Homo sapiens: one gene and its partners. The protein of the gene in region 2 interacts with the protein of the main gene of each other region in a biochemical or structural test. Each region holds a gene or a part of one and is shown on either strand. Other genes may lie near its edges.

Evidence for each region.
Region 1: of the proteins of EIF4EBP1 (region 2) and MAPK14, one has a biochemical effect on the other in vitro, tested with the Homo sapiens proteins (one study listed by BioGRID).
Region 3: of the proteins of EIF4EBP1 (region 2) and LRRK2, one has a biochemical effect on the other in vitro, tested with the Homo sapiens proteins (3 studies listed by BioGRID).
Region 4: of the proteins of EIF4EBP1 (region 2) and ATM, one has a biochemical effect on the other in vitro, tested with the Homo sapiens proteins (2 studies listed by BioGRID, with this or other methods).

What each region holds. Positions count from the first base shown.
Region 1 is NC_000006.12:36,072,808-36,079,834, reverse strand, and holds part of MAPK14 (mitogen-activated protein kinase 14), read right to left. Parts: intron 6,963-7,027; coding exon 6,851-6,962; intron 6,145-6,850; coding exon 6,115-6,144; intron 5,787-6,114; coding exon 5,739-5,786; intron 3,988-5,738; coding exon 3,873-3,987; intron 3,299-3,872; coding exon 3,227-3,298; intron 2,001-3,226; exon of another isoform or gene 1,971-2,000; intron 1-1,970. UniProt on the Homo sapiens protein: Serine/threonine kinase which acts as an essential component of the MAP kinase signal transduction pathway.
Region 2 is NC_000008.11:38,026,402-38,033,538, reverse strand, and holds the start of EIF4EBP1 (eukaryotic translation initiation factor 4E-binding protein 1), read right to left. Parts: upstream 3,006-7,137; 5' UTR 2,966-3,005; coding exon 2,821-2,965; intron 1-2,820. UniProt on the Homo sapiens protein: Repressor of translation initiation that regulates EIF4E activity by preventing its assembly into the eIF4F complex: hypophosphorylated form competes with EIF4G1/EIF4G3 and strongly binds to EIF4E, leading to repress translation.
Region 3 is NC_000012.12:40,227,982-40,235,008, reverse strand, and holds part of LRRK2 (leucine-rich repeat serine/threonine-protein kinase 2), read right to left. Parts: intron 2,736-7,027; coding exon 2,626-2,735; intron 1-2,625. UniProt on the Homo sapiens protein: Serine/threonine-protein kinase which phosphorylates a broad range of proteins involved in multiple processes such as neuronal plasticity, innate immunity, autophagy, and vesicle trafficking.
Region 4 is NC_000011.10:108,324,064-108,331,090, reverse strand, and holds part of ATM (serine-protein kinase ATM), read right to left. Parts: intron 5,782-7,027; coding exon 5,547-5,781; intron 5,034-5,546; coding exon 4,866-5,033; intron 3,447-4,865; coding exon 3,333-3,446; intron 2,071-3,332; coding exon 1,853-2,070; intron 878-1,852; coding exon 670-877; intron 1-669.

The DNA of each region.
Region 1 (7,027 bases), on a different chromosome or scaffold from region 2:
ACTAGCTGCATTTCAGTTGCTTAATAATTAGCCACAGGCAGCTGGTGCCTATAACCACCACATTGGATAGCACAGATATAAAACATTTGCAATACCACAAAAGTTCTAGTACACAGTTCTTACTTACAAGCCCAAACCACCAATTCCAAATGCAAAATGATCAATAAATAAGGAAAACAGGGAGAAAACTGGACACTCAAACAATGAGTACCTTCTAGAGCAAGCTTTTCCAACCCAGGGCCTGCGGGCTGCACGTGGCCCAGGGCTTTGGATGCAGCCCATCACAAATTTGTAAACTTTCTGAAAACATTACGAGATTTTTTTTTTGCAATTTTTTTTAAGTTCATCGGCTATCATTAGTGTATTTTATGTGTGGCCCAGGACATTTCTTCTTCCAATGTGGCCCAGGGAAGCCAGAAGATTGGACACCCCTGTTCTAGAGGTTGCATTTAAATATCATAAATAAGTGACAGGTGCATGTCTTTCAGGCTGAAGGAAGAGGGTATGAGGCCAATACATTCTCCAAAGGTTTTTTAAAGAGGAGTTCTGCAAATTAGAAGAACAGCGAAGAACAGAATATTGGAAAAGAAATTGTGGCCTATGTGACAGGTAGCTTTGGATTATATTCTCTGGGTCTTGGTTTCCCCATCTATTAAAAACAGGGGATTCAACTAGATGTTTTCTAATTAACTTTCTGATCTCATTGGTACTTTTCAAAAAAAATGAATAGAGATTACTAACATCTTCAAGACCAGCCAAGATTAAACTAAAATTCAACTGGGTTAAACTCTAGTTGTACTCAACACTAGCTGCAAACTAGAAGACTGTGCTTTGACCCATGACAACAAAATGGAGTCTTTGGGGTGGTCCCCAGGCATCTAGAGTTTTTAAAAGCTCTGCAAAGTGATTCTGACACACTATGAGGGTTAAGAACCACTATGCTGGAACACAAGTGACCGTATAGTTCAGGCAGGAAAAGATAATGGGAAACATTTTCCTCTTGTCAGGCAATCAAAGCTGTATCTACACAGATGGCAACTTACAAGAGAAAGGTTAAGTATATTACAAATAAAAATCCTTTGAATTCGACTTTTACAATCCAGGAGAGAACATCTGTCTGAAAAAGAGCCAAGTAGAATAAAATAAATAACTAAAACCAAAATTTTGAAATGAATTCTCATGTATTAAAAAATGAATCCCTTATTAAAAAGTTTAAACACTAGGTTGTTTATCTAAAGCTCACAGAAGAAAAAGACCTAAGCACAAAGGGAAGATTTCCTACAGGCAGAAAGTTAGCATTTAAAAGGGTCAGGGAATAGACAGGTGTCTGTGAGACAGGACCACAAAGGTACAAGACTCACACTGCTTCGAAAACTTTCTAACACTAGTCTGCCAAGGAGTTCCATCCTTTCCTACCTATCACAGAATTAAAAACAAAACAAAACATTAATGATTCATAGGTAGACAATTAAGTGAGAAGGTGAAGGGGTAATCTGTTTTGCAAGGCCATTACTGAACATGATGGCTAACATTTACTGGCAGGCTCGTCTCAGTACTTTCCAGTTATTTTCTGGCTGAATTCTTACGACAACCTTGTGAGTATGTATGATTATTATCATTTTACGGTTAAGGAAACTGAGAGAAATAGAGGTTAGGAAACTTACTCAAAGTTACATAGCTGGAAATAAAAGAGCTAAGATCTAAATCCAGGAAATCTGGCTCCAGAGCATGTGCTTAACCTGTATGTTATACTGCCTTTCCCTCTCTGCCACCTTGTGTGTCTACACCGGCATGGAGGTCTGTGACTGACTAAATGGTAGCTGGAGATACAGACACAAGAAGAGGAAGGGGAGCAGGGAACAGAGAATAGCATCAGGACAGCAGCTACTCTAGAGGACAAAGCAAGGATGGGACTCTGAGATATGTACCTGAGGAAAGGGGGAAGTATGAATTTTCCCTAATTCTCTTACCTTGGACTGTAATATATATATACCAAATTTCTGAGAAACAGATATAAGGTGAATGAAACAAAGGACAAAGGAGAAACACCAGGTATTAAACTAATTTAAAATCCAGAGGTAGGGAGTAATAAGGTAAGCTAAATACAGGGAGACTGAACTCTGTTATCAATCCTAATATTCAGAGAGAAAGAAACAGCTTTACCTGAGAAATAGAGGTTTTTTCAGTTCATAATGAAAGTACATTCTCTCTAGCAGAAGATAGTTAGAACACGTGGGTAGATATCATGAACATCATAGCCATTACAGAAGTATATCCCAAACTGTAAGCAAGTGAATTGACATTCTGGTTTATAAACTCAATTAGTTTATTTAGGTAAGGGACTAAAATGGCTTTTAGATCTCTAGGCATAATAGATCAGAGGTAGCATGTCTAATATTGCCTAACCAAAACCACCTGAAGGCTAGTTAACTCAATTCTATTAAAAAAAGAAAAAATCCCCAAAACTAATTCTAGACATATATTTTAACAATCTTTCTCACCTAAACATCTTCCATAAGTAGAACTGATGAGAGTTCCAACAGACCACATTTTTCATGACATTAATACTAAACCATGAAACAAGCATACCGCAGATAGGAAAGGAGCTAAAATAAAGGGGCTATAATAAACCATAAACTAGACAGTAAGTCTTGGAGTAAATTAGGGTTTGGCTGCAATCTGGGAAAAAGTTGTGCTGGAAAAACAAAAGTACATTACATGGTAAGCTTTTCACTTCTTGCTTTTACTATTTGTTGTCAAACAACAAACATAACAAGTAAGCAGTATATCACTGCAGGTACCAAACATAGCCCTTTTAATACATAAACATAACAGCAAGATGCCCTTCATTTATAAATGGGCATCTTGTGCTCATTAAGTGTTTATACAAGAAGACTAAAACTGTCACTGGGATCTGGAGTTTCTCATGAGTATGCTCAGGTCTCAGAACTGCTGTGGGATGATTAATAAGGGACTGTTGCAAAAAGAAGACAGACTTGATGGGTTTTTCAACTTATGAGGAATTTTTCCAACTCACAAAAGTAAACTGAAGCCTCTTTCTTGGCAAGGCAAGCTACTCAGTTTGAAGAAAGACCTCATAATGCATTATCTAGACTATAAAAGCAAAATACTGAGAGTCTTCCCTAGAGATAAGTAAAAGGAGTATACACCCATGGACACTGGAATACAGATAAGAAACAAGAATCCAAAACTTTTTAAAGGATACGGTCTGTACCAGGAAACAATGTTCTTCCAGTCAACAGCTCGGCCATTATGCATCCCACTGACCAAATATCAACTGGCAAAATTAAAAAGAAGTAAAAGTATATGCAATGTCACTGTTACAATTCTTGGCAACAAATGAAACCGTAACTAGGGGTGAAATATTCAAATTACTATTTAAGACATCTGAGGCTCAACAATCATACTCATTTTTACAGAAATAAATAGCTTACTAAGATCTTCACCTGACTAAAGGGCTGTTCAAAGGTGGGGTAAGTCAAAACACACTTAAGAGAAATAAGCTGTTTAAAAAGGGGCAAGTTTCTTATTAGTAGAATGGTAGATTCTTCCAAGTAACATTGAGGGGTTAAAATTATGGACTAATTGTCTTTAGGTATAAGTACTCAGAGAATATATTCAAAATCTAAATAAATAAAAACCCAATTGCTAAATCACAAGGTTTAAAAGCTGTGTATAAAACCCCACTTCCCCATCTGAGGAAGTGAAATATTTTTACTTGCAGGCTTTAAAAGGATCACTGAGGGAAGAAAAGACATTTCTTCCCACTCCCACCATCTCTATTTCTGAGAATCCCAAATGCATCCAACATGGAATTAAATAAGGCCCTAAATAACCAAGGCGAGTAATACCTGTCTGGTTGTAATGCATCCAGTTCAGCATGATCTCAGGAGCCCTGTACCACCTAGTGGCCACGTAGCCTGTCATTTCATCATCTGTGTGCCGAGCCAGTCCAAAATCCAGAATCTAAAGGGCAGAAGAGGAACAGACAAACTGCTAAGACTTAGAAACAGGCAGGGAAAAAAAAACAAAACAACAACAACAAACAAACCTCTGTTGCCTTATTAAAAAGGAGAACAAAATAGCACTTTCATAAAGAGATTTCCTGGTCCATACTTAGAATGTATGGTAAATATACAGCAAGAACTTAAAATGAAATTACAAAAAGCAAAACAAAAATGTCACTCCCAGGTATTTAATCAAGTGCAATGAGAACTTACGTCCATACAAAGGTTTGCACATAAACATTCACAGTTGCTTTACACAGCCTCAAACTCAAGCAAATGTCCATCAGCAGGTGGATAGATTTAAAAATTCTGTTATGTTCATAAAACAAAATACTATTACCAATAAAAAGGAAGAAACCACTGACACACACAACAATACCGAATCATTACACCAAGCAAAGGCCAGACACACAAAAATACACACTATATGATTCCATTTACATGAAACTCCAGAAAAGATAAACCTAATCTATAGTGTTAGAAGCAGATCCATAGTTGCCTGGAGCCAGAGTTAGGGGTGGAGGGGTAGGGATTGACTAGGAAGGGACACAATAAACTTTTTTTTTTTTTTTTTTTTTTTTGAGACGGAGTCTTGCTCTGTTGCCCAGGCTGGGGTGCAGTGGCACTATCTCGGCGCACTGCAAGCTCTGCCTCCCAGGTTCACGCCATTCTCCTGCCTCAGCCTCTCAAGTAGCTGGGACTCCAGGTGCCCGCCACCATGCCCAACTAAATTTTTGTATTTTTAGTGGAGATGAGGTTTCACCGTGTTGGCCAAGATGGTCTCTATCTCCTGACCTCATAATCCACCCGCCTTGGCCTCCCAAAGTGCTGGGATTACAGGCATGAGCCACCACGCCTGGCCATAAACTTTTTAAAGTAATCCAAATGTTCTTGGCTGGGAGCAATGGCTCACACCTGCAATCCCAGCACTTTGAGAGGCCGAGGCAGGTGGATCACGAGGTCAGGAGATCGACACCATCCTAGCCAACATGGTGAAATCCCATCTCTACTAAAAATACAAAAATTAGCCGGGTGTGATGGCGTGCACCTGTAGTCCCAGCTACTCGGGAGGCTGAGGCAGGAGAATCGCTTGAACCCGGGAGGCAGAGGTTGCAGTGAGCCAAGATCACACCACTGCACTCTAGACTGGGCAACAGAGTGAGACTGCATCCCAAAAAAAAGGAAAAAAAAAGAAATGGTCTTTATCATAAATGTGAGTTAAGTGGATATATAATTTTGCCAAATGAAATGGTGCATTCTAATGTACAGACATTTTTTCAAGTTAAAAAAATGAAATGGAACAAAAGTTCTAGAGCTGCTTGCTATTTAGAAACAATTAATTCACTTATTTTTTATTTGAATTATTTTGAGTGAGTGGGTTTCTGCCATTTCTCCTCTTAGAAATGTATTTAATCTAGTTATCACCTCTTTGGGCCTACTTACTTGATATTTGACTATTATCCTCCTTTATTATGACTAATATATCAAATTTATAATTTAACTTTATGTTAAAATAAAAACAAGTGATGCCACTTTCAATGTCACTTAGCTTACTCAGAAATGGTTTAAATTTCAAAGTCTGATAATAAAAATAATACGAATTTCAGATAGTCATGGCTCACAAAGCTACTCCCTAAGAAAGTCTGCCTGCTTAGTCAAACATATAATCTCAAAGTAAAGCAAACAATGAATACTGTCTCTTCATTTTACCTTCAGCTCACAGTCTTCATTCACAGCTAGATTACTAGGTTTTAGGTCCTAGGAAGCAAATACAGGGAAGACAGGATCAACTTTATGATGCATGATCAATTCTCCCCCTACAGGTAATAATGAGGATCCAGACATAAAAGACTTCATCCAGCTATCAAAAGACAATCTCCATCCTACAGTCAATATCCAGTCCAAGTTAGCCTTACATAGAAAAAAACTACACATCTTCTTTCTTTAATCAGCTTAAACCTACAGTAAAGTTGCAATCAATCAACATTTCAATGGCTAAAGTTTAGATTAGGATCTTGGCTAAATGCCATTCTTCCACTCTCACCCCACTTCCCCAAAATAATGTAATCAAAGTCACAATACATACCCTGTGAATTATGTCAGCTGAATGTATATACTGCAAAAGAGAAAAAAGTCAAAGTTACCTCCAACCTTCTATTGTCATATTATATAACATATTTGCTGCACATTTTCATGAATCAGTAAGAACTGCTAGTGTTAATAGTAAGATTAGAAATCAGCATAAGTAACTATCAGTATTGTGTACATTTACCATTACTATAATTTCCACAGCCATTGACTCCACTCAGTTGAGCTTTTAATCTATTTTCTGGTTGGCACTCTGGAGCTCAATAAGGACTCAAAGCAGCTAAATATCAAAGATGGGTTTAATTTTAAAACACTGTTTATCTGCCCCTCCAACAAATAAATTAGTCTTTCTTGAGGATTTTTTGAAAATCTCAACATTACGCTGACCAGATATTAGATTACATCAATAAATTATTGTTTAGATGTAAGAATGAAGAGTCCTTATCTTTCAGATATGCAAACTGAAGTATCTATGGATGGTATTATATAATGTCTAGACTTGCTTTAAAATAATCCAGGGCTTGGGAAATACAAAAGAAACATGATTGGCCATATGTCGGTAACTGTTGTCACTGAGTGAACATGGCAGTTTACTGTACTATATGACCTTTACCTGTGATTTTATGTGTTTGAATTTTCCATTAGAAAAGTTGTTTACTTGTTTGTTTAAGCCCTAAAAGGAGGGGAGAAAGGGAGAATTCATTTTAAAAAATTATTACTTGTATTATCTGTACCTTTAGACCTCGGAGAATTTGGTAGATAAGGAACTGAACATGGTCATCTGTAAGCTTCTGACATTTCACAATGTTGTTCAGATCTGCCCCCATGAGATGGGTCACCAGATACCTAGAAATTAGTGAAAAGTTACATAACAATCTAGAACCCCTAAGAAAGTTCTTATCTTCAGAAGA
Region 2 (7,137 bases):
CACACCACGATTTAGAGATCAAAGTTTACCTGGATGGAGCCATCTTTTTTTTTTTTTTGCTAGACTCCAGAGATCTGAAAGGTGAGGGAAGTTATGTTTCACTAATTCCTGAGTACTCAGAGTGTGGTATGTGCACCAATCAGTCAGAGCTAGTTAGAAATGCTGAATCTAGGCCGGGCATGGTGACTCACGCCTGTAATCCCAGCATTCTGGAAGGCCGAGGCAGGCAGATCACTTGAGGCCAGGAGTTTGAGACCAGCCTGGTCAACATGGTGAAACCCCCGTCTCTACCAAAAAATACAAAAATCAGCTGGGCATGGGTGGTGCATGCCTGTTGTCCCAGTTATTGGGGAGGCTGGGGTGGGAGGATTGCTTGAACCCAGGAGGTGGAGGTTGCTGTGAGCTGAGATTGCGCCACTGCACTCCAGCCTGGGTGATAGAGTGAGACCCTGTCTCAAAAAAAAAAAAAAAAAAAAGAAAGAAAGAAAAGAAAGAAATGCTGAATCTAGTTCCCACCCCCACCTACAGAATCAGAATATGCACTTAAATGAAGCCCCCAGTTATCCTCAAGCACCTGGAAGACTGAGAGGCAGTATTCTGCTCTGGAGCAAAAGGGTGTGACCATTTTGGCTGCAATGTGACCATTTTGGCTTCTCTGCCCTGGCAGAGGTGGGCTGAGGTGGGCTTTGGAGGAAGAGTCCACACCTTGGCTAATCGAGGCCGACCAGGCTTGCTTGACTTTAGTGGAAGTCAGCCAGGTTTCCCTGGCTTAGGGACTGTGAGCTGTACCTGCTCCACTGGACGACCAAACAGTGAGCTGGCTTTAGGCTCCTGGCACTGCTAGCTTCTTCCAGTGATCTCAGAAACATATGCTATGCCCTGATGCAGAAGTCCCTTCCCCACTCCCCCTACTGCTAAAGACCTTCAAAGGGAAGGGGATTTGCTGTGGTCTGTCAGCCCCCTGCCCACTCCCCACTTCCCAACCCAAAGTGAAAAGTGGATTTGAAGTTCCTATATTTTATATTTATTATTTATTTTAGAGATAGGGTCTCGCTCTGTCACCCAGGCTGGAGTGCAGTGGTCAATCATAGCTCACTACAGCCTCCAACTCCTGGGCTCAAGCGATCCTCTGGCCTCAGCCTCTGTAGTAGCTAGGACAACATTTTGTTGTTGTTTTGTTTGTTTCTTTGTAGAGATGGAGTCTCACTATGTTGCCCAGGCTGGTCTTGAACTCCTGGCCTCAAGCAATTCTCCTGCCTTGGCTCCCCAAAATGCTGGCATTACAGGTGTGAACCTTGGTACCCGGGCCAGAAGTGCCTATAAACAGTATCCTGGCTTCCAATTTGACCCAACAATCCAGCAATAAAGAGTGCAAAAAAGGGCTACCTGCGCCTTCAGGCCGGCCTCAGGGCCCACCCTGAACAAATCCAGCAGACACTTACACCCTCATTTGAAAGAACTCCAAAATTGTCAGGAATTGTCCTGGTAGACCATTGTGACAGAGACAAAGGAGAACAGCATGGACTACAAAAGACCCAGCAAGGGAAAGAGGATGAGTCGGGAATGGCAACAAGAGCCCCTGCGAGCTTTTCCTTGGCTCATTTCTAATAGAAAAGGAAGCATTTCTCCCTTCTCTGCCTGGTTGCTATTTCTTGTCCAATCTGGGAAAACGGTGTGACAATGGGCAACAGACACGTGTTCAAGCTCTGGGGCCTCAATGCCGGGCTCTGTAGAATAAGACGGCAGGGCTGGACAAGATCCCTAACCGTTCTAACAGTGTATGTTTTGGATCAAACAGCAGAGGACCTCGGATCTGGCCGCGCTCGCTGCTGGTGGGACAGCTGCCTGAGAAAATAAGCATGTGGCCCCCGCCCGCCACCTAGCCAAGCGCCAGGATCTGTCGCGTTTTCTAGTAGTATGGAAAGCAGCGTGGAGGAGAATGAAGGGAGAGGAGCAAAAAGGGGTGGGGGCAGTGCGACAATGAGAGGGGAGGAGAGAGCCACGAGGATTTATTTCATCATGCAAACAGGCGCGTAGGTTTCATCAGCGTCTGTGCGCTGGGGCTCCGGGGCTGGGAGGGAATGCCAGGTTCCTGAGGGCAGCCCGAGGCTGGCCCCCCCACCCGTGCCAGCTCAGCTTCCTCTTCCTCATCCTCTCCCAGGGAGGTCACACGGTGCCTCCTCCTCTCCCCGGACAGAAGAACGTGTTTTTCTGCACAGCCCTGGCCGTGGCGCCAGGGTCCCCCCCGCGGAGATCCCACTCGCGTAAATGGGGAACGTGCCACAGGTGCCCGGGAGGCGCTGCTGGAGCAGGCAAGCACCCCCAGATCCGAACCTCAGTCAGAGCGCGCGAGTCCAACACAAAACTCGGCGTGCTTCGGGAAGGAAAAAGGGCCCTGCAGGAATCGTTTATCCCAACAGATAATACCCATCCCATAAAAACACCAGGCCAGGCCTCTCCTGGATCGTGGGCCACCCTAACTCCGCCCTCTCCCGCTTCGGGAGCGCCCCCAACACCCACAAGGGGCAGCACAGCTCGGCATGTGGCTGTCCTGGAGGCGTGCGTGTTTGTTAGGTGTCAGCTGTCTGACACCTAACAGAAAGAGGAAACAAACGGGGCAGTTTGTAACTCGGGTCTGGAAGACGCACTCAGAGGGGAAGCGGGCGGCCACTTCCATGACCCTCGCTGTCTCTCCGATGCCCCTTTTCCGTTCTTTCCAATCACGGCGCCCTTGAGCCTGGACACCCGGTCCAATCCGCGATTCCCGATCCTCCCGCCCGCCCAGGAGCCGGCAAGCGGCGTCGCCAAGCCCGCGCCTACCTCCCGGGGTGGTGCTGAAGAGCGTGCCGCCGGGGGTCGTGCTGTAGTCCCCGGGCGGGAGCTGCACGCCGTCGCCGAGCACCACCCGGCGAGTGGCGGGGATGGCCCGGCTTGGGGTCTGGCTGCAGCTGCTGCCCCCGGACATGGTCTCCTGTGCGCTGCACCCGCGAACCTCTCGCTGCCCTCCCGCGCCTCCAGCCTCGCTCCGCCTCGCCCCGTGCCGCCCCGCCCCAGGACGCCCCTTCCGCCTCTCCCGCCCCACGCCCCTGGGATTTGTAGTCCGCGCCGCAGCCCCACCCAGCTCCAGGACGCTGCTTCCACGTGGGATCCCCCGCCGCCCCCCGACCCACTCCCGTCTGCTCACGGGCTCTTCCGCACGGGCGCTGGCGCCGCCCCGCAGCGACTGCCCCTCCGTCCGGGGTCCCTCCCCGCCACGCTGGCAGGGACGGATATGGGGATGGCGGGCGGGATAGCTCGCCTAAATTAATCCTTGGCTGGGTTGGGGGCGGCGACTCAGGACCGCGCGGAGATCCGAGCTGACCCGGCCCACTGCAGGAAGGCCCGGTTTCTGCATTAGGACATCAGGCCTGGTGTACCCTTCGGCACTCCCTGTTTCGTGCCTTAGTTCCTCAGATGAGAAAATGGGGATTGAGTAGTTATGCTCACCGCCCCCCGCCCCGCTTCAATTTCTTGACCTTGATGGGGGTGGGGGTGGAGGGGCTAACAATTCCGTTCCCGGCCTTTAGAGAGGGTGTGGGAGGAGGAGTGAACCAACCAGCGGCGTCCTGGGAGCTAAATTTAGAGCTGGGGGCGCAGAGGTGGGTGGTGGGGAAGGGCGTTGGAGAGGAGTAAGAGTGTCGAAGAGGTTTCCCGATAGCCCCTGAATTGAGTCCAACGTCCACCTGAGGTTTAGTAGGTACTCCTTGGATGGATGGATGGATGGATGGATGGATGGATGGATGGATGGATGTTCAAGGGGAGAGAGAAAAATGCAAGAAGGACCGAGGATGGAAAAGCTTGTTGGGTTTGAGAAGTTCTTAGCATTATGGGCACATATTGTGGGGAAGAGGGTGAAGAGGGGAGGGCAGTTTAAAAGGGAAATTGGGTGGTGCACCTGTAATCCCAGCTACTCAGGAAGCTGAGGCTGGAGGATGCTTGAGCCCAGGGGTTTGAGGCTCCAGTGAGCTGTGATCACACCACTGCACTCCACCCTTTGTGACAGAGACCCTATCTCTAAAAAAATATATAATAATTTTTTAAAAAGGAAATTGGGGTCAGGTCGTTGAGTTTTTCAAATTATGCCAAAGTGCTTGGACTTTGTCTTAGAAGGGCAGGAGATATCAGAGATCTTTTAAGCAGGGGGATGACATGATTTGAGTTGTTTTTTGGAAGGATAACTAGTAGCCAGTGGAGTTTCAGAATGGGCCAAGGAGGGCAAGGCCTGAGATAGGGAGACCTGTTGAGTTTGGTCTCACTTTTGAGGGAAACTTTAGGCCTACAGTGGCTAAGACAGTAGCCACCAGCTACAGGTGCACATTGAGCACTCCAAATGTGACCAGTCCAAACTGTCACAAGTTTAACATACACACCATATTTCAAAGACTTAGTGTGAAGAAAATCATGTAAAATACCTGAATAATTTGTTTCTATATTGATTGTATGTTGAACTGATAATATTTTGAGTATACTGGGTTAAGAAAAATACATTATAAAAATTAATTTTGGGCCAGGCGCAGTGGCTCACGCCTGTAATCCCAACACGTTGGGAGGCCGAGGCAGGCGGATCATGAGGTCAAGAGATCGAGACCATCCTGGACAACATGGTGAAACCCTGTCTCTACTAAAAATATAAAAAAAATTAGCTGGGCATGGTGGCGCATGCCTGTAGTCCCAGCTACTCGGGAGGCTGAGGCAGGAGAATTGCTTGAACCTGGGAGGCAGAGGTTGCAGTGAGCTGAAATCATGCCACTGCACTCCAGCCTGGCGTCAGAGCAAGACTCTGTCTCAAAAGAAAAAAAAATAAATTTCGGCTGGGTGCAGTGGCTCACGCCTGTAATCCCACCACTTTGGGAGGCCTAGGCGGGTGGATCATGAGGTCAGGAGTTCAAGACCAGCCTGGCCAAGATGGTGAAACCCTGTCTCTACTAAAAATACAAAAAAACAAAACAAACAAACAAACAAACAAAAACAACAGACCGGGCACAGTGGCGGGTGCCTGTAATCCCAGCTACTCGGGAGGCTGAGGTGGAGAATTGCTTGAACCTGGGAGGCAGAGGTTGTAGTGAGTAGAGATCTGCCACTGCACTCCAGCCTGGGTGACAGAGTGAGACTCCGTCTCAAAAAAAAAAAAAAAAAAAAATTAATTTCATCCAGGTGCTGTGGATCACACCTGTAATACCAGCACATTTGGAGACCGAGGTGAGCAGACTGCTTGGGCTCAGGAGTTTGAGACAAGCCTGGGCAACATGGTGAAACTCTGTCTCTACAAAAAAATTTAAAAATTAGCCCAGTGTTGTGGCTCACACCTGTGGTCCCAGCTACTTTCAAGGATGAGGTAGGAAGATGACCTGAGCCCCAGAGGTGGAGGTTGCCATGAGCCAAGATTGCACCACTGCACTCCAGCCAGGGCTCAAAAAATAAATAAATAATATAAGATAAAAATAGACCAGGCCTTGCTGGTTGCAGCGATGTGCACTTGTAATCCCAGCCCTAGCTGGGATTACAAGGCCAGAGGATTGCTTGAGGCCGGGAGTTCAGAGACCAGCCTGGGCAACATAGTAAGACCTTGTTTCAAAAAAGAGAGAGTTTCAGGCCGGGTGTGGTGGCTCACGCCTGTAATCCCAACACTTTGGTAGGCCGAGGGGGGCAGATCACGAGGTCAGGAGATTGAGACCATCCTGGCTAACACGGTGAAACCCCATCTCTACTAAAAATACGAAAAAAAAAAATTACCCGGGCATGATGGCAGACGCCTGTAGTCCCAGCTACTCGGGAGGCTAAGGCAGGATAATCGCTTCAAACTGGGAGGCAGAAGTTGCAGTGGGCTGAGATCGTGCCACTGCACCCATCCTGGGTGACAGAGCGAGACTCCATCTCAAAAAAAAAAAGAGTTTCACTCTGTTGCCTGGGCTGGAGTGCAGTGGCTAATTATAGGCACAATCATAACTCAGTGCAGCTTCCAACTCCTGGGCTCAAGCCATCCTCCCACCTCAGCCTCCCCAGTGGCTGGGATTACAGGTGCATGCCACTGCACTTGGCTAATTAAAGAAAAGAATTTTTTGGCCGGGCGAGGTGGCTCATGCCTGTAATCCCAGCACTTTGGGAGGCCGAGGCAGACAGATCACCTGAGGTCAGGAGACCACCTGGCCAACATGGTGAAACCCTGTCTCTACTAAAAATACAAAAATTAGCCAGGCGTGGTGGTGTGTGCCTGTAATCCCAGCTACTCAGGAGGCTGAGACAGGAGAATCACTTGAACCCAGGAGGCATAGGTTGCAGTGAGCCAAGATCCTGCCACTACACTTTAGCCTGGGCAACAGCAAGACTCCATCTCAAAAAAAAAAAAATTTTTGTAGAAATGAGATCTTGCTATGTTACCTAGGTTGGTCTCAAACTCCTGGCCTCAAGTGATCCTCCCTCCTCAGCCTCTTAAAGTTTTGGGATTACAGGCATGAGCCACTGTGACTGGCCCCTCTACCTTTTTCTAGAGCAGGAACTCATTCATATGGAAAAAACAGCTTTTATCTGAGGAATGGGAATCCTTTTAAATTATCAGGCCTAGACATTAAAATGAGACAGCAATCACGTCCCACTACCCCCTTTTGAGCTATGTATTCATCTCTTGAAACTGCTTGCTATTGTCACAAGTAGCCATAAATTAACCTATTAATAATAATGCTGCACTAAAGACTATATAGGGTGTGGACACTATAACTTAACAGTGTATAGCCAAGGCTGGGTGCAGTGGCTTACTCCTATGATTTCCACACTTTGGCAAGCCAAGGTGAGAGGATGGCTTGAGGCCAGGAGTTTGAGACCAGCCTGGGCAACAGAGAGACCCTCCCCCTTCATCTCTACAAAAAAATTTTTAAAATGTGGCCGGGAGTTGTAGCTCACGCCTATAATCCTAGCACTTTGCGAGGCCGAGGCAGGCGGATCACCTGAGGTCAGGAGTTTGAGACCAGTCTGGCTAACATGGTGAAACCCCGTCTCTACTAAAAATGCAAAAAGTAGCCAGGTGTGGTGGTATGCGCCTGTAGTCCCAGCTACTAGGGAAGCTGAGACAGGAGAATCGCTTGAACCTGGGTGGCAGAGGTT
Region 3 (7,027 bases), on a different chromosome or scaffold from region 2:
AAAAATCAACAGGGGACTATTATGTGTCTCATTTAAAAAGTTAAAAGCACTACTTATTTTCCAATAAATATTCAAATTCAAATATTCAGATTCACTATTTTCACCCAACTCCATATTCAAAATATCATGAAGCCTTATATACATCGAGAGCAAACCCATTTTTATATATGATGTAAATTTATAAATTATCTTAGACATGTTGATATATTAAAATATAGAGATATAATAAAGATGTTAGTTTGTGTATATAAATTAAGAATTCATTTGAATATTTAAATTATTGATTGCTACTGTTTTTAAAAGAGAAATTAATGATATATTAAAAAGTAGTGGGCCGGTGGCCGTTGCTCACGCCTGTAATCTCAGCACTTTGGGACGCCGAGGCGGGGGGATCATGAGGTCAATAGATCAAGACCATCCTGGCCAACATGATGAAACCCTGTCTCTACTAAAAATACAAAAATTAGCTGGGCGTGGTGGCGTACTCCTGCAGTCCCAGCTACTCGAGAGGCTGAGGCAGGAGAATCACTTGAACCCGGGACACAGAGGTTACAGTGAGCCGAGATCACGCCACTGCACGCCAGCCTGGCAACAGAGAAAGACTCTGTCTAAAAAAAAAAAAAAAAAAAAAAAAAAAAAGTGAATTTAGCATATCAATAATGTTTAGTTAGTTCAAGATAAGATTTTAATCCCTATGTTATTAATCCCAAAATATAATCTCTAGTCTATTCCTGCAAAGCATTGTTTGGCTTTACATTATTGGAAGAAGACTGAGCTGGCCACATCTAGAGTTTTGTATGTATTCAAGAAACGTTGCATAATCTCCATTTGGCAATTGGAGGACCTGAATGAAGCCAGTCTTCGATTCTCTGCCAGCCTTCCTCCTAATCACCCTGCCCCTACCTCTCCCTATACCATTCCCACAATTCCTGACTTTATTACCACGGAAGAAATTTTTCTTCAGTACTGGTAAGTCTTTGGAGGGAAAAGGCCTTGAAAAAAGAGAAATCTGTTTTACAATCAATTTTTGCTGGGAGTGATCTAATACACTCCACTGGAGACAGCAGTGTGTCTATCTTCTTCACAACTGCATGGTTTCTGACCCAGAGGACAGGCTTCAAAAACATTCAATGAATAGAAGATGAATGACTGGATGAACAAAGTGAGTGAATGAGTAAGTGAGTGAGTGAATGAAATTTCCTACATAAACTTTTATGTAATTTAATTTGAACAGTTGGTTTGTACAGGAATATGACTAGATGAGTTTCCCAAACACTCCCTGAGGTTATAGACTGGCTCATCTTTGGACTTCCTGGAAATTATCACCCAAACCAAGGGACATTTAAAGTTACAATTCCTAATTACTGGTATATTTTGAGTAATTCCTCATCAAATGCTGTATACTTTAGAACTGATACATAGAATTACAGAGATTAGATTGAAGACGAGAACTCCAATTAATTGTAAATATGCTCTTTCCAAAACACACCCTTTATGTACTGAAAACAAGAAGAGCAACACATTTGTCAAAGAGGGGAAAATGTATAAGCACAGACATGTTCACTTATGGACAAACACATAGCTCTAATTTGTCTAAATTTATAGCACTACTTGACACTGATCAGCAATACAAACACCTGAAAATTTTTCATAAATTAAATTTTCATAAACCATATACCATTGGAAGCCAAAAAATATTCACAATTTCCTTTTCTGTGATAAAGAAAAGTCATATTAGGTATAAAAAAGATTTAAAGTTAATGACAAAAGGTTTGTTTGTTTGTTTGTTTTTGAGACAGAGTGTCGCTCTGTCACCCAGGCTGGAGTGCAGTGGTGCAATCTCGGCTCACTGCAACCTCCGCTCACTGCAACCTCCGCCTCCCAGGTTCAAGTGATTCTCCTTCCTCAGCCTCCTCAGTAGCTTAGAAGATATTTTTTAACTGTCAAGAAACAAAGCTATCCAAAATGTATTTTCCTGGAAACACATTCTTCTTGAGAAAATATTTTCTTAATTAATGATGGCTAAGGAAGTAGTCTCATCTAAGAAGCCATTATGCTGCAAACTGCAAAAACATAGCTGGTAAAATTACTATCAAGATTTGGCTACAGATGTGCTGAAAGTTAATTTCCTCTTTCTTAACTCTTTCTGAAAGCCATAGTTTAAACTTACTGTATATATAGGAATATATATATAAATGTACTATTTAAAGACAGTAGAACATCAACTTTCAAATTACTACTTACAGAACTAACTTTTCTCAGTTCCCATTTTTTTAAGAACTAGTGGTTTGTATCGATTCTATTATTAAAAGCCAAAATCTCTTCATGGTTTGAATTCAAAAGTACTCATCAAAAATCTACAACTTAACCAGTTTTATAATTATATGATTATATTATTAAAATAATAACTTCTGACATGTTACCTTAAATGTTTGCTTTCTAAATCAAACTTCTGAGTTTAAAGCTCTCTATAAATGTAAATCATTGACTCAAGGAAAAATATCTGTATTTTAAAGAATTCCACAGGAGTAGCCTTGGATTGCAAACACAGTGTATCAAGGGAAGGTTGTCATGTGTACAAATAAATACTCAAGGCCATTTGTTTTACATATCTATCATACTTACTGGTGAACACCAAGGACTTCCCAATCATTTCCAACATCCTGGGGTCCCATTAAGCTTTGCATTGTACCTGGACAGACTTCTATTAATTTGCACAGAAGTGACCAACCCACCTGAAAACAAGAAAGACATATATTCACATGTTTTAAAGAATGTTAATAGAGCATACTCAGTCAAACATGAATCTCTTCAATCTTAGTGGAATAGATGCTTATCTCACTTGTAAACAATGGTTATACAACAAAATGATACCCTAAAATGCTTACCCAGAAACAAAAGCAAGCCGTATTCTTAGGATACACCTTTCTCCAAAAATCATACCAGAAAGACATACAAAAAATACAACATTTCAGCCGGCAGTTTGAGACCAATGTGGCCAAGATGGTGAAACCCAGTCTCTACTAAAAATACAAAAATTAGCCAGGCATGGTGATGGGCGCCTGTAATCTCAGCTACTCGGGAGGCTGAGGAAGGAGAATCGCTTGAACCCAGGAGGCAGAGGGTGCAGTGAGCCAAGATTGTGCCACTGCACTCTAGCCTGGATGACAGAGCAAGAATCCATTTCAAATATATATATATTATATATATATATAATTTAATTTATACATAATATATAATATATATAATTTATATATATAAATACATATAATTTCTAAATTATGAAGAACATAGACATGCCAATTGTCTAAATAAGGCAAAATAAAATAAACTATAAAAAATAGTTTTAGAGGTTGTACCAAGATTATTAAGTGCAAGAATGGCTATACCAGATCCTTAGTACTTTTTTTTTCTTGTTTTTTTTTTTTTTTTGGTTTTGTTTTTGTTTTTGAGATAGGGTCTCACTCTGTCACCCAGGCTGGAGTGCAATGGTGCAATCATAGATCACTGCAGCCTAGAACTCCTGTCCTTAGGTGATCCACCCACTTCAGCCTCCCAAGTAGCTGGGACTACAGGTATGTGCCACCACACCCAGCTAATTTTTTTTTTTTTTTTTTTGTGAAGACAGGGGTCTCGCTCTGTTGCCCAGGCTGGTCTCAAGCTCCTGGGCTCAAGCAATCCTCCTGACTTGGCCTCTCAAAGTGCTGGGATTACAGGCGTGAGCCTCTGCACCTGGCCCTTAGTAGGTTTTAAGTCATATCTACCTGACAGAATTTCCTCCACATATTTAAAATTTTAATTATAGGAAAAAATGAAGTGGCTTATAATGAAGGATTAGGTGAAGTTGGAGATTTTAGTAGCAAAATGTAAGTTATCAGAATGGCTGCTCCCCAAGTAATGAAGCTAGAATAATAGAGGCAAGAAACGTGGCATTTTTAGCAATTGAATCTACATCTGATAGGAGAAAAAGAGAAAGAGCTCTATAAAATAGACAGGAGGTAGAACTCCTCAATGGCTCCCTCCAGATTTCTCTAGAATGAATTGATAAGGTCTAGAGATCACAGACACCCCTAGTAGGCTCTTTCACATTTCGAAATAAAATATGAAATTATAGATGCATTTTAAGTATATCTTCACTCAGTCTGTTTACAAGATGCCAACTTGACTAAGTTGCTCTTTACCTCTGAAAAAAAAATTGAAAGTCCTGATTTCAAACCGGAGATGAAAATTAACCTATTCTTCCTACTGTAGACTCCTCCCTCTCTAAATGTAAAGGATCTCCAATTCATTCTATTATACTATAGAACTATACTTGACATGGTCAAAAAAAAAAAAAAAAAGAGAAAGTGCATATATGTACCCTCTAGAGACTAATGGAAAAGTATCTAAGTGTGATGTGTAATAAATACCAATATAATAGAAATACTGAAAGTAAGACTCAGTGTGAGTTGAAATTACTCAGAGAAGAATATAATATGAAGAGGTAGAGCTTAAGCCAGATTGTATAAGAACGGATGAGCGGTGAGGAGAGTAGGCTGCTACATGATAAGGAAGCTGCTACAGGGAAGAGGCTATTTTGGGATAAGGCTGGATGCATAAGTAAAGTTGAATATTGCAAGGAGTTGAATGACAAGGTGAGAAATCTATATGCACCCAATAAGGAATAATGGCACAAGTTTCTTACTCGCTTACGGGAGTAAACAACGGCTATTTTAGGAAGATAAAAATGATTACTCAAGATCTCTTTACAATATTACTTTTGGATCTTTTCCAGATTAAACATAAATTGCTTTATTTTGTCATTACTTCCTTTTACATAATTTCAAATTGCTTTCAAAGGCGGCAATTTCTGATAGCTATTTCTACCTATACTACTCAAGTAGGACATCCTCCTCCACGTAAGCTGAACAGACGTTGACAATCCAGCTGTCATAGAAACTGACTATTTTTGTGCTTTCATAGAATACATCAAGACTTTTTTCCGAACTATTTAAGAAAATAACATTCTGAACAGCTTCTGGTGGTAAAAAAAAAAAAAAAAAAAAAAAAAAAAGTCACATAGGATGCCAAACTCATCTCTGTACCTACAAAGCTGACTCAAGGAAAAAACCTGTTTGTTTTGGTTGGTGAAGCAACAGTATCAGTAAACGCTTTGCAAAAAGATTCAGGCAACTGAGCTCTCCAGCACTACATGGAACTTCTGTGATTAAATAGAATCTCTGGCAGCAAAGCAGAGGTAACAATTGATCCATTAATCTATTCAATTAAAAGCTTATCTCTCTAAGAGAGAAGGTTCCCATCTTGCACAGTTACAATACAATTAAATTGGTAGTTTTACTTTATTATAATTATTCTAAAAACTCAAGCATGTAATTAATGCACAACAGGAAAGAGTCTAGGGGTTAAAGAAAAAATTTTAGCCACTTTCATTTATTTTGCTCCCCTTCTTCAAAGGTTGAACCCTTGAGAATAAAGAGATGTAAAATTTAGGAGCACAGTGAAAAGATAGGCAGGAAAAGAAAAATATAAAGCACCTAGCTTAACCGTCAATTTTCTAAAGACTGTCATTTATGAAGAAACATTAATAAAATATGAAACAAACTTTGAAAATAAAACTGGCAGTCTGGAATATCATGTTAAATGGCATCTAGAAACAAACCTTAATCTTTATTTTAAATAGTAATTAAGAATTACTATTAAATTAAATGAAGGAGAAATTTACCTTAATACCTTAAATTTATCATTAAGAGTTTTTCTTTTGGCACTTCCAGCTAATTCAACATATAAAGCAGTAAAGGATACTTACAGTAATTATACTAATAATATAAAGAAATCTGAAGGAAAAATACTACTTTTAAGTGAGTATTAAAATGTCAGTAGGAGACCCCTTTCTACATCCCCTTGTTAAGACCAATGATAATTTAAATTGATGTCATTGTACCTAGCATGGCCACAGTATTTGTATCAAACCATTTTGCTTTTTACTAGCTTGCACAAAAAGCTTGCGAATTCAGCAGCTAGTAGATTGTATGATGGAAAGAGATTTTGAAGGTGTGAGAAGACTTGAGTCTTAGGTCTGTCACAAGCTCTTTGATCCTCAGTGAGCAGCTTACTCTCACTTCGCTATGACAGTAAAACATCCGGTAATATTTCCAGGAGGGCAGTGAGATTTCAGTGAGAATCAAATATTGGCTGTGCAAAAGAAGGAAACTAGATCCACAGCTTTCACCATATACACAAATCATTTCAAAATGGATTAAAGACTTACATCTCAGACCTGAAAATATGCAACTACTAGAAGAAAACACTGGGGAAATGCTACAGGACATTGGTCTGTGCAATGATTTTTGGGGTAGGACCTCAAAAGCACAGGCAATTACAACAAAAATAGGCAAATGGGATTATATCAAGCTAAAAAGCTTCTGCACAACAAAGAAAATAATTAACAAAGTGAAGAGACAACATAAAGAAAGGGAGAAAATATTTGCAAAATATCCATTCAACAAAAGATTAACAACCAGAATACATAAGGAACTAAAAAAACTCAATTAGCAAAAAAAAAAAAAAAAAAAAAAGTCTTATTTTTAAATGGACAAAAGATCCAAATAGACATTTCTCAAAAGAAGACAGACAAATGGCTAACAGGTACATGAAAAAAAAATCCTAAACTTCACTAATCATTAGGGAGAGGCAAATCAAAACCATAATGAGATATTATCTCACCACAGGCAGAATGGCTATTATCAAAAAGACAAAAAATAACAAATGCTGGTAAGGATGCAGAAAAAGGGGAATGGTGGTACACTGCTGATGGGAATATAAAGTAGCACAGCCATGATGAAACACAGTATGGAGGTATCTTAAAAAACTAAAAAGAGAATTTTCATATGATCCAGTAATCTCATCGCTGGGTATATATCCAAAAAAAGAACATCAGTATATCAAAGATATATCTGAACTCCCATGTTTATTGCAGCCCTGTTCACAATAGTTAAAATACAGAATCACCTTATATGTCTATCAACAG
Region 4 (7,027 bases), on a different chromosome or scaffold from region 2:
GCTTTTCCCCATAGGCCAAAAGTAATATTTAGTGTATACTACAGCAGAGATTGACTGTATCTATTATGAGTCTTATTATTTTCCTGCAGGAGAAACATTTTATCTCTAACCTTCAAATTGACTAACAATATATAGCTTGTCAACTTAAATTTAATATTAGGTGTCATCACTATAATCTAAGGTTTTCAAAGAAAAACTTATACAATACTGCTGTCTTGACATTTTCTGAAAAATATATTTTCTCTACTTACAAAAGTAATTTATTGTAAAAATCCCATATTTCTGCAGCAGGGGGAAAACCCACCTGTGATCACATCATCTTTAACTGCTTTCTAAATCCTCCAATCTAATGCCCCATTCTAGACCCTCTCCTATGGTAACTGCAAAGACATAGGACCAAGCTAAATTCTATCACCTCCACACAAACTTGCATCATTTACAGCTTGTCAGCTTATATAATACAAAGGAACTTTTGTAGAAACAAGACTAGAACTTGTAAATAATCCTAAATATGGATCAAAGTTTAGAAAACTACAAAATGCTACTTATGTGTAGAGCACTGGACCAAGTGCTAGGAATACAAAGAGGTATACACGATTCCTGACATCAAGGGGCTTATGTCTAAGTTTTTCAAGCACAGGGTAGAATATTGGGCTGAGTAACACTTGCCTTCATCATGCCATTGACTTCAGAAACTCCAGAATTTTCAAGCCAGAGGGAACAAAGTCGGAATACCCACATATCATGTTCTTCTCCACTTAATAAGCAGTTGATATAATTTTCAACTGCTTTACATAAGAAGCGTTTACGATCCTCTTTCAGTGCACGCAGGGCTAATTCATCCAACTCCAGCTCTCGCTGAACCTTTACTGTGTATCTTGCATAGAATAATTAAGGTAAAACACAAAAGCCATGAACTTTAACAGAACTACAAAATCACACATGATATACAACATTTAATGAAAAAAGTTGGGTTTTTATCCCAGGGAAAAAAGCAAACTTCTAAGGATTATAAAGGGAATAAACTTACTTTTGTCTTAACTGTGCAATTCACACACCTTCCTAAGCATCAAAGGACAAAGGGGACTCTCCCCAAGCTATTTAGCTAACTTACACCTCTGCTTACACTAAAATATACAGATTCAAGACAGGCTTAAATAAAGGGATTTAATTACATCAAAATAGGTAACTTTTGTAATTAATTTCAATATCTATCTCCTTTTCCACTATGATACCAACAAACAAACCAAAAAAGCAAAACAGAAAGCTAATATCTATATTCTCCACAATGAACTTAGAAGCAGAGCATGAATTATTCACAAAAGAACACGTCAATATCTTACATACTAATTTGTGATTAACTACAGTAGGACCAAGACAGACAGGGCACAGTGCCTCACACCTGTAATCCCAGCACTTTGGGCGGCCAAGGTGGGCAGATCGTTTGAGCCCATGAGTTTGAGACCAACCTGGGCAACATGGCAAAACCCCATCTCTACAAAAAATACAAAAATTAGCCAGGTATGGCGTGCACCTGTAGCCCCAGCTATTTCGGGGGCTCAGGGGGAGAATCAATTGAGTCCAGGAGGTCGAGGTTGCAGTGAGCTGGAGTACAGTGATCACGCCACTGTACTCCAGCCTGGGTGACAGAGTGAGACCTTGTCTCAAAAAAAAAAACAAAAAACAAAAACCGAAAAGAACCCAAAAGACCAAGATAATCTATATATAGTTAAGCCGACCTTTAGAGCTCAAAACTATATCAGATAAAAAGACCAAGTCACTCTTTCTATGCAAAAACACTCACTCAGTTAACTGGTGAACATAAAATTGTCACTTGTAGAAACCTAGTTACCTGTTTGTCTGAATTTTATGTTCCCTAAGGAGACCTACTTCCTCTTTGGCTCTTTTCAGGAGAGCTTGCTTGTTTTCAAATTCCGATGATTTCATGTAGTTTTCAATTCTTTGGTATTGAGTATCTGAAAACCGGGCTAATGAGAGAAATGCCTTCATTTTTCCATTTCTTAGCTCATCACTACTTTCTCCATCATAATTTCCAGCAACTTCTACTGCCTTCAAGAAAACACAACCAATTTAAATTATATTTACAAATACTAAATACATCTAAAGAATCACTCAAATTAAGGTAATACACTAAAATTTAACTTATATACATATAAAAGCTAGCTAAATTATATGAACTATTGCAAACTTGTCCAACCCACGGCCCATGGGCCGCATGTGGCCCAGGACGGCTTTGAATGTGGCCCAACACAAATTCGTACATTTTCTTAAAACATTATGAGATTTCTTTTGTGATTTTTTTTAAGCTCATTAGCTATCATTAATGTTAGTATATTTTATGTGTGGCCCAAGGCAATTCTTCTTGCAATGTGGCCCAGGGAAGCCAAAAGATTGGACAGCCCTGAACTATGGTATTTTCTTGACTTTTCAAAACAACTTTGACAGTGTAGAAATAACCCAGACAGCTAATACTTGTAAAGAACTCTGCAAAAACAGAGAACTTTATAAAATTTAAAGACAATCAGGCTGGGTGTGGTGGCTCAAGCCTGTAATGCCAGCACTTTGGGAGGCCGAGGCAGGTGGATCACTTGAGGTCAGGAGTTCGAGACCAGACTGGCCAATGTGGCGAAACCGTCTCTACTAAAAATAAAAAATATTAGCCGGGTGTGGTGGCACACTCCTGTAGTCCCAGCTACTTGGGAAGCTGAGGCAGGAGAATCGCTTGAACCCAGGAGGCAGAGGTTGCAGTGAGCCGAGATTGCGCCACTGCACTCCAGCTTGGGCGACAGAGAGAGACTTCATCTCAAAGAAAAGAAAAGAAAAGAAAGACAATCGCATCATGTGTTTCATGTTACACTTATTTAGTGAGGTAACTATTTCCAAAATTAGTGAATCTAAAGGAATAAGAGGGAGAAACAGGAAAGTCAAAGGGGCTAGTATATTGAAGCCTTTACTTGTGGGTGGCTGGGCTAATGAAGAGCAAGGGCTGACTTGCCTATTCTTAATCAGTTATTTTTGTAGATGCATAAATGAAGAAATGATCAGAAGCAACCTGCTGAAAGGGTAGCTGGTAGTGGAGGTAGGAAGGAGGAAGAAGAGATACTATACTTGGGCTTACTTTCAAAATTGGCTGCTTTGTTTTGTAACAATGTTTCACTCCACCCTAGAGACTATACAGAGCTACAACAGTAATAATATATAGAAAAATAAAACCATACTTTTATTTGCTTTGGAAATATATTGATCTTGATGAAAAGATGAAGCATATTCATGCTAAGTAACTATCTTAAGGGTTGCTCCAAAAATCTTACCTTTTCTAGATAGGTCTGCATGATGACCGCAGGATTTTCTAAGCACGTTTCTGCTAACCAGTTGCCACAAACCCTCAGACATTCTGTGTATGTAAGTTTTAGGCTGGGATTGTTCTGTATAAGAAAGGCAAAATCTTAAAATATAATGCATTACCATGACTGTACCCAACTGCCCTTCATGTACGGGGAAAAAAGCAGGTTAAAAATGTTTTTCCTTGGTGGGTGGGAAAAAAAAAGTTTTTCCTCATCTGCTTTTGCCATACAACTATTTTAATAATCCCATGTAGGAAATGATCATCCTCTGTTTATTATTATTATTGCCATTATTGGAGCAAGTCACATTTATTGAGTACTTATATATGTCAGACACTTTGTAAAGGCTTTATATATATTAACTCATTTAATTCTCACAAGAATCCTATTAAATAAGTACTATTATTACCCCAATTTGCAGATTAGAAAACTGAGGTACAAGGAAGTTGGGTAACTCCAGACAGCACATACTTCAGGGCCAATACTATTAAGCAATATTTACACATATCATATTGGCACTCAGTGCTTTGGTATAATGATTTCTCTAATAACAGAAGATGCTATACAATGAGTGCCCAACATCAAAAAGTACAGTAAAGGCCGGGCGTGGTGGCTCACGCCTGTAATCCCAGCACTTTCAGAGGACAAGGCGGGTAGATTGCCTGAGCTCAGGAGTTCGAGACCAGTCTTGCCAACATGGTGAAACCCCATCTCTACTAAAAATACAAAAAAATTAGCTGGGCATGGTGGCATGTGCCTGTAATCCCAGCTACAAGGGAGGCTGAGGCAGGGGAATTGCTTGAACCAGGGAGGTGGAGGTTGCGGTGAGCCGATGTCGTACCACTGCACTCCAGCCTGGGTGACAGAGCAAGACTCCGTCTCAAAAAATAAATAAATAAATAAATAATAAAGCACAGTGAGCTGATATTCACTAAGCAGGTACATGTCTGTGGGACACCACTGTAGACAAACCTTGGGGACACCAATGCCTCTACTTTATCCAGTGTGTATGCTGGGTTTACAGCTGAAGTAGCAACATAAGTTTGCAAAAACCAACAGGTAATGTTAGATAAAATATTAGATGTGATATTTTCAAAGCATTTGGATTGACAACCTAATTGTCCCAACTTGCTTTTATTTTCTAATTTAGTTCTCTCATTCATTTCCTCTTCCCTTTTTTCACTTGTCATTTCAAATTTAGAGTAGCTATTTCATTCATTTCCCACATACCTTTCTTGAATTCTATAGGAAGTTAAAGGCTTAATACTGGGATATATTAAATGAATCGACCACATGATGGACTGATAGAATTGTGATATATAGGAAAAAGTTTCTAAACTTCATTTACAAATTAATTTTCAAGACTAGTTTTACAATATCTTGTTAATAAATTACTAATTTCAAGGCTCTAATAAAATTGTTATTAAAAATATTTTAAAGTACATTTGTGTTTTTTTAAATAACAGTAAAACACTAATCCAGCCAATAAAAAAAACAAACCGCTGCACAGCTGGCATCCAACTTCTTGATCATTTGCTTGAGAATACTCAGGGCAAGACTCTGCTCCTTTTTTGCCCAGAATACTTGTGCTTCTTCCAGCTGCCACTCAGAGACTCCACAGCTAACTGAATTGTACTGTTTAATTTGAAATATTGCCCTTTCAGGGAGCTGAAATGAAAATGACATATGGGAATAAATACTTTTACTACTGATACTACTACCATGAATAATAATAATAATGAAAGCAGCAACTACCATTCATTGAGGACTTAACTACTTGTCAGGGACTATCTTAAGGACCTCTCTGTCTGCATGACATCTCCCCACCCCACGTCTGCCTATCTGTCTGTCTGTCTGTCTCTCTCTATATGTATGTATGTGTATCTGTGTGTACATACACACAGTATATAAAATCACTGAATTGTTATCAATATAGTAAGTTACGTATCTTCTCATTTTATAACCAGGAAATTGAGGTTGAGAAAAGATTAAGTACCCTTGCCCAAGGCTTAAAAGTCAGATCTAATTCCAAAATGGGAACTCTTAAACAATTATTTTTACTATATATTAATAGAGATCTCTATCTCTTAATGACATTTCTTTTTCCCTCAGGCTTTCTGTTTTTTAAATAATAAAAGGAAAGTCAAGAGGTAAGATGACATAGTTTTAAATTGTATTTACCTGAGTGTTCTTGAAAGTTCTGGCCAGTATAGAGAGTTCTACAAGGTGTTTGGTGAGAATGTCCTTAATACATTCTCTTTGTGAGTTGTCCATTTCCTTTTCCATCAGGATCTCCAAAATGACTGTGCGTAGAGCCATGATAGGCTCCTGAAAACTAAAATCACTGTCCTTGAGAAGCTGGGAGTGTTTCTGCCACTTAATATATACTTCAGAGAGTTGTCTATGTGTGACTGATCTGAATGCCACGACATAGAGTTCATGTAAGCAAGAGAAATGAAAAAAAAAAAAAAAAAAACTATGTAAGTTCTGGAACTTACGATATAATATTATAATAATACAAAGGAACTTTTGTAGTGACAAGACTAGAACTTGTAAATAATCCTACATATGGATCAAAATTTAGAAAACTACAAAATGCTATGCGGTCAGAGCTCTTAAGAGTTATTAGCAGAGAGGTCACAGATGACAAACATCAAAAAAAATTTTTAATACTCTGACATTACAAAAAGCAGCCCTTCTAAATACTCTTCTGAAACAAGAACATATTCATCAGACCTATCATAAAGAATGCCTCCATCTTTAGTCCTGCTTCAATACTGCCTGTAGTAATGAGGACATGTCAGCAAGGAAATGAGGGACCCCCTACTGGGGATGACTTGATGCATAATTATAGCTGTCAAAAAAATCACAATCCAGTGAAGGAAAAGCTGGCATCTGGCAAAGGTTTCATTTACCAACATTATTAAAGGAACAGAAAAGGCATATTGCACAATTAGTTTATATGAATAGTATCCTTCCCAAATAACTGAACTATGAAATACTACCCAATCCTTCAGGGACATTTATTGAAAGAAATAAGAAAGAGGAAGCAGGGAGAGTAAGATGACAAAGTGATGACTAAGAAATGAAAGCTCTTTTAGTTGCTTGATAGGGAAGGAACAGTAACAAAAATGCTAGGAACCAAAACTTCAATTCCTCTCTAAATGACCCTACCACAGCAGGTCTCAAACTTTTTGCGGAACTCCTTTACAATCAAACAAATTATTGAAGACCCCAAAGAACTTTCGATCGTTGGACCATATCTACTGATATTAGATATGATATCATATTAGAAAGACTGAGAAAAATCTAAAATGTATTAATTTATTCAAAAATAATAAATCTACTATATATCATAAATAACAATTTTTAGGAAAAATAACTACAGTAGTTTCTCTGTATCTGCAGAAAATTGGTTCCAAGACACCTTGATAATGCTGATGTTCAAAGTCCCTTATTTAAAATGGCAGGGCATTTTCCTATTACACGTAACCTCTAGATTGTGCTTTTATTAAACATTTCCAAAAAGTATTACACATAACCTCTAGATTACGTGTAATAGGAGAATGTGCACAGGTTATACATAAATCTCTAATTACATATTATACCTACTATAATGTAAATGCTATGTAAATAAGTGTTATACCCTATTCTTTAAAATT